Homo sapiens: one gene and its partner. The protein of the gene in region 2 purifies or fractionates together with the protein of the main gene of each other region. This does not show direct contact. Each region holds a gene or a part of one and is shown on either strand. Other genes may lie near its edges.

Region 1 (3,500 bases), on a different chromosome or scaffold from region 2:
TCTTTTGTAGACAGCACTTAGTTGTATCATATTTTAAAAATCCACTCTGCCAATCTATGCCTTTTGATAGGAAAATTTGGCTGGGTGTGGTGGCTTACACCTGTATTCCCAGCACTTTGGGAGGCTGAGGTAGGCAGATCACCTGAGGTCAGGAGTTTGACACCAGCCTGGCCAACATGGTGAAACCCTGTCTCTACTAAAAAAAAAAAAAAAATACAAAAACCAGCTGGGTGTTGTGGCACATGCCTGTAATCCCAGGAAGAATTGCTTGAACCCAGGAGGCAGAGGTTGCAGTGAGCCGAGATTGGGCCACTGCACTCCAGCTTGGGTGACAGAGCAAGACTCTATCTCAAAAAAAAACAAAAAAAAAAAAACAAAGTTTAACCTATTTGCATTTGAAGTAATTGCTGATAAGGAATGTATTACTACTGCCATTTTGCTATTTGTTTCCTGTATGTCTTGTAGCTTTTTTGACCCTCATTTATTCTATTACTGCCTTCTTTTGTGTTTTGTTGATATTTTATAGTAACACATTTAGAGTCCCTTCTCAGTTTCTTTTGTGTTATATTCTATAAATATTTTCTTTGTGTACATGGGGAAACAGGACAAGCTGCCACAAGTATGTAGGGTGATGCACTTGTTCAGTCCCTGTGGGGGTCCTGTGCCCCATCCTCTCCATGCCCTTCCGTCATCACTCCACCGCTCAGCCTTAAACATCTGCCATTCTAAGAAACATTCTTAATGGAAAAGGTGGTAAAATGATATTTTAATGGTGATTCTGGAAAAAAAAAAGGCAAATGAAAAGCATTTCTAGCCCTCTGGGAGAACTCACTGGTTTATTGTTGGTAGAAGCTTCTTAAGGCCTTGCAGACACACTGTGTCCCATGGTGATCCCAGCACAGGCCACCCTGAGCCCTGTGTCCCTGTATCTGTGCCACTGTGAAGATCTGCAGAGCGCACATCTGGGCATTCTTGATCTCGAACTCCTGAGCTCAAGTGATCCACCCACCTCAGCCTCCCAAAATGTTGGTATTACGGGTGTGAGCCATCACAACTGGTCTGAGCCACCGTGCCTGGCCCTGGGCATTCTGAGCCACCTGTGCCACCTGTACCTTCCCCAGAACTGAGCTATTTCCTGATGGCCCTGCAGGTGGCCCATGAAAAGTAGATTCTTCGCCCCTCTGAGTTTGTTTTCTGTGATAAGCTCTGTGAAAGTGGGTTTCCACCGCAACCCCTCACTTCCATCTTCTGGAGAGGCAGGTTGGCAGGCCAGGGGCAGCTCTCAGCTGGGCAATGCGCACCACACAGGCTGGGATGGCTGTGATTCTGCAGGTTCACCCTCCTGGTGGGAACCCACCTTGGGGGTGATGCCTTCCTGTGGTCAGTGTCAGTACGAGGCTGTCGTCTCTGGTCCCCTTGGGCTGTGCTGGCTCATGACCCTGTGCTATCTGTTTTAGATCAGACCTATTGTGACCGCCTGGTGCAGGACACGCCTTTCCTGACAGGCCATGGGCGCTTGAGTGAGCAGCAGGTGGACAGGATCATCCTCCAGCTGAACCGTTACTACCCACAGATCCTTACCAACAAGGAGGCGGAAAAGGTGCTGAGGAGGTGAGGGGGGTACCCGAGACACTGCTCAGTTTCCCTTCCTTTCTGGGCTGGGAGAAGCTGGTGACCAGCCCTGGGTCATTCTCTCATGGGATGACACACTAGGTATGTCAGGATTCAGAGGTGACACATCTGGACCTGGCTACTAAGGCTGCCTGAGCTACAAACTGGCCCTTTGGGGTGAGCCCAACCAGGCTCGGAACATCAGCTCTCTGTGCCTCGGTTTCTTCATATGTCATTGGGTCTGCTGTCCCCTTCCCGAGTTGCTGGGAGGTTACAGGAGATAACATGTGACAATACATGAAGCACACAACAGTATAAGATACGGAGGGAGGCGAGAAAGAGGGCAGGAGGGAGGGGTGAGGAGGGAGGAGGCAGAGGGAGAGCCGAAGTGGGATGGGGAACAGATAATGGGCCCGGCCCACCCCAGTGCCACAGGGCTTTGCACTCTGCATCTTCCGAAGGTTCAAAGCGGGCAAACAATTGCTTCCTTTTCTCTAATTTCTATATTACTGTACGAGGCTGGAAAGCCCAGCATGTCACAGGTAGGCAGCTGAGCTTCTAGGAAGGCAGATGCTGACTCACCCCACAGCCGCGCCCCAGTCTGCCCCTCTCAGCAGTGCTGAGCGGGCTGGTCCCCTCAGAACCCCAGCCTCCCCCATGTGTGGAGTGGACACCGAGAGCCCCTGCCTGGCAGGTGTGGTGAGGACTGACTGAGCTGAGCCGGGTAAACGCCTGCCCGAGAGCCCTTGTCGCCAGATGGCCCTGCAGCCCTGTGGGCAGCCACGCTCATCACCCCATCTCACAGAGGTGGTCCGAAGGCTCAAGAGGCAGCCACTTGCCCAGGGCCACTCATTTCAGGAGTGTCAGGCCACATCTTGAGTTCATCCTATTATTTGGGAAAGTGCCCAGGGCCAGTGGCTGTCACTCTGTCACATGGCCCTGGCCTCTCAGAGCTGCAGAGCTGGGCACACCAGGGTGGCTCTGCTGGAGATGGCATTTAAGATGCAATTCCTGGGCTCTGTCTTGGGAGGTCTGTTCTGCTCCATCACCCCAGTGCCAGGTGGCCCTGAGGGGACATTGGATGAGAGAGTTAGCCACACCCTGCCGACCCTACCCACATCTGTGGCTCTGGCGCCCCCACTGAGCCACCTGTTCCTTGACAGGTGCCACGTGCAGGGCTATCCTGAGGGTTGGGGCATCTCCTGGAACAATGAGGTTGGCCCACAACAGAACAGGAGTCAACACGGGCCCTGCTACTGGCTCAGGTGCTTCTTCCGTTTTGAAGGTGGTACAGTAATTTTAAAAGTTAGGAGCTCAAATCCAAATCTCTTATTATTGCAATTGAAGTCTAATGCATGTTCACTTTTAAAAAGTTTAGAAAGTTTAAGACGTTTATACAAGAAAAAGCACATATTCCTTCCTCACAGACACCACAGCTCCTGCCACCCATCTGCCTGCCATTTTCACACTGCCATGGTTTAACTCCAGTTCCCTGTGGCCATGTAGAATGATATGCTGCCACCAGGTGGCAGCACCAGGCCACAGACTCCAGGTCCTGGAGGTCAAGGCCCAGTGGCCTGTCCACTGACCTTGAGAACCACACATTTCTCTGTCATACACATCAAAAGAGCCAATACTTCTGTCTTTTTTTTTTTTTCTTTGAGATGGAGTCTCTGTCGCCCAGGCTGGAGTGCAGTGGCATGATCTCGGCTCAGTGCAACCTCTGCCTCCCAGTTTCAAGCAATCCTCTGGCCTCAGCCTCCCAAGAAGCTGGGATTAAACATGCACCATCATGCCCAGTCAATTTTTTGTACTTTTAGTAGAGATGGGGTTTCACCGTGTTGGCCAGGCTGGTGTCAAACTCCTGACCTGGAACTCCTGATCCGCCT
Region 2 (3,500 bases):
AGCTGGAGCTTCATCTTTCAGTGAAAAAAATTTAGGGGGTTTTATGTTATAAACTTTGTTATAAATTTTATATTGGTCTTCAGTTTCAGAAACACTGTTGCCTCAAAGGGAAGGAACTAATGTTTAATAAGCTCAGTGAAATAAGTAGAGATTTACTCAGTTTTATAGATTGGGAAACTGTCTCGGAGAAGATAACACAGCCAGTAAGCCACAAAGCCAGGAGTAAGATTCTTACCCATTTTGCAGCACATAAATCTATAAGACTTAAGAAGTTAAGAAATAAAGTTAGTCCTATTCTGGTACAGTTCAACATGAAAGTTCTTCAGTGGAGCAACAAACCCTGACCAAGGTCTTGAAGGGGGTTTTTAGCCTAGAGTCAGGTAACTTCCTCTTTCCAGCTCCATCTCAGGTACCTCTCCCTCATCGTAGCTTGTCTTTATGAATGTCAGCTTTTTGTTTGTTGTAGACCAAACTAATGCATTCATTTAATTCTAACATCTAATCTAAGGTATCTTGGGTTATCTCCATTTACACTTATAAACTGAGGCTTTGAGAAGATTAGGTGACTAGTCCAAGGCTGGTATTCTGGATCCTTTGGGCACTGGAGACACTAACACAGCCTGCCTTCACATGCCCACAAGTACGGAACCTGCCGTATTTCACTGCCTCTTAAGTGTACTCTCAGTCTGTATCCTACTAGCTCAGTCGTATATCCTACACTATTTCTACTATGCCAAACTTCATTACCCTTAACAGACCTTTGCAGTGATTTCCCTGCCACTAGGTGCCCTGTAGGGGTGATATTTGTAGCTCTGGAGATTGCTTTATTCTGACCCTCTAGCAGAGACTACAACCTCATGAGTCTTGGCAGACACTACTTGTCTTTTCACCATTACTACTACTGTGCTAACTGGGAATCTGGCCACCCTTCCTTACCCCAAGGGGTGGGTCTTGATATAAACTCTAAACCAATCATTGTAACTCTAGCTCCCTAGACAGTGATTGATTTAGGCATGGGCATATGATGCAGTTCTTGCTAATTAGATGGGAAGGGAAGCCTGGGGAACTTGTGGAGAAGCCTTCCTTATTTAAAAGAGACTTGCCAGCTTTTATTTTATTATTTTTTGCCAGTTTGTATTTTAACCCAGGTTGCACCAAAATGTGTGAACCACAAACAAAGACAGAGATGGGAAAGCTATAATAATAATAATACCCAACACTTGTATAGAACTTGCTATGTGCTAGGTACTCTTCTAAGTAGAGGCATACCTCAGAGCTAAGGCAAGTTTGGTTCCAGACCACTGCAATAAAGCAAATATAATAAAGCAAGTCACATGAATTTTTCTGTTTTCCAATGCATATAAAAGTTATCTTTATACTATACTGTAGTCTCTTAAGTGTGCAATAATATGTAGAGTAAAAGTACCTCTTTTATTTATTTATTTATTTATTTGAGACAGGCTGGCCCTGTCTGTCACCCAGGCTGGAGTGCAATGGCGTGATCTCGGCTCACTGCAACCTCCGCTTCCTGGGTTCAAACCATTCTCCTGCCTCAGCCTCCTGAGTAGCTGGGATTACAGGTGCCCACCACCACACCCAGCTAATTTTTGTATTTTTAGTAGAGACGGAGTTTTACCATGTTGGACAGGCTGGTCTTGAACTCCTGACCTCATGATCTGCCTGCCTCAGCCTCCCAAAGTGCTGGGATTATAGGCATGCATGAGCCACCATGCCCAGCCAAAAGTACATATCTTAATTAAGAAATCCTTATTGTGAAAAATTGCCATTTGGTGAGCTGTAATCTTTGCTGGTGGAGGGTCTTACCTTGATGTTGATGGCTGCTGAGACTGATCAGGGTGGTGATTGTCTGGGGTGGCAGTAACAACCTATGAAATTTGCCACATCAATTGATTCTTCCTTTCACCACAGATTTCTCTGTAATGTGATACTGTTTGATAACATTTCTCTCTGCCATAGACCTTTCAAAATTAGAGTCAGTACTCTCAAACCCTGCCACTGCTTTATCAACTAAGTTTATGTAATGTTCTAAATCTGCCGGTCTTGGTGGCTCACGCCTATGATGCCAGCACTTTGAGAGGATGAGGTGGGAGGACTGCTTGAGCTCAAGAGTTTCAGACCAGCCTGGGCAACATAGTGAGACCCCATCTCTAAAAAAACATTTAAAAAATTAGCTGGGTGTGGTGGCGCGTGACTGTAGTCCCAGCTACTCAGGAAACTGAAGTGGGAGAATCACTTGAACCTGGGAGGTTGAGGTTGCAGTGAGATGATTGTGCCATTGCACACCAGCCTGGGCGACAGAGCAAGATCTTGTCTCAAAAAAACCCCAAAAATCCTTTGTTGTCATTTCATGTATGTGTGTATGTATGTATGTATATATGTTTTTTTTATTTATTAAGACAGGGTCTCACTCTGTCACACAGGCTGGAATGCAGTGGTGCTATCAACAGCTCACTACAGCCTTGAATTCCCAGGCTCAAGCAATCCTCCTACTTCAGCCTCCCGAGTAGCTGGGACTACAGGCATGCACCACCATGCCCGGCTAATTTTTTAAATTGTTTTTAAAGAGTGTTGCCTAAGCCTGTCTTGAACTGGGCTCAAGTGATCTTCCTGCCTTAGCCTCCCAAAGTGTTGGGATTACAGGTGTGAGCCACCTTGCCCAGCCTATTGTCTTATCAACAGGATTAACGGCATTTTCACAAGGAGTAGATTCCATCTCAAGAAACCATTTGTTTGCCCACCCGTAAGAATAGCTGCTCATCCATTCAAGTTTGATCGTGAGATTGCAGCAATTCAATCATATTTTCAGTTGTCTAGTTATCACATTTTCACTTCTAGTTATCTTGCTGTTTCCACCCCATCTGCAGTAACTTGCTCCATTGAAGTCTTGAACCTCTTAAAGTCATCCGTGAGGGTTGGTATCAACTTCTTCCAAACTCTTATTTATGATATTTTGACTTCTTATGAATCGTGAATGTTTTTATAAGACCTGAAAGTTGAAATCACTCCTTAATTCATACAGAATGGATGGATTCTGTATAGCTACAGAATGGATGTTGTATTAACAGGTGGGAAAACAACATTAGGCCGGCGCAATGGCTCACACCTGTAACCCCAGCAATTTGGGAGGCCGAGGCGGGCAGACCACTTGAGGTCAGGAGTTCGAGACCAGCCTGGCCAATGTGGTGAAACCTTGTCTCTACTAGAAATACAAAAAATTAGCCTGGTGTGGTGGTGCACACCTATAATCCCAGCTACTGTGGAGGCTGAGGCAAGAGAATTGTTTGAACCTGGGAGGTGGAGGTTGCAGTGAGCTGAGATCACGCCACAGCACTCCAGCCTGGGCGACAAGAACGAAACTCTGTCTCAAAAAAAAAAATATATATATATATATATATATTCAGTAAATCAAGCTGTAAACAGATGTGCTGTCATCCAGGCTTTATTCCATTTATAAAGCATAAACACAGTGGATTCAGCAT

The links. The genes of interacting proteins can lie anywhere in the genome.
Region 1: the proteins of KPNA6 (region 2) and CARD19 purify together in Homo sapiens (affinity purification with western blotting; one study listed by BioGRID). This does not show direct contact.

What each region holds. Positions count from the first base shown.
Region 1 is NC_000009.12:93,106,217-93,109,716, forward strand, and holds part of CARD19 (caspase recruitment domain-containing protein 19), read left to right. Parts: intron 1-1,457; coding exon 1,458-1,600; coding exon of another isoform or gene 1,601-1,611; intron 1,612-2,774; exon of another isoform or gene 2,775-2,876; intron 2,877-3,500. UniProt on the Homo sapiens protein: Plays a role in inhibiting the effects of BCL10-induced activation of NF-kappa-B. May inhibit the phosphorylation of BCL10 in a CARD-dependent manner.
Region 2 is NC_000001.11:32,111,056-32,114,555, forward strand, and holds part of KPNA6 (importin subunit alpha-7), read left to right. Parts: intron 1-3,500. UniProt on the Homo sapiens protein: Functions in nuclear protein import as an adapter protein for nuclear receptor KPNB1. Binds specifically and directly to substrates containing either a simple or bipartite NLS motif.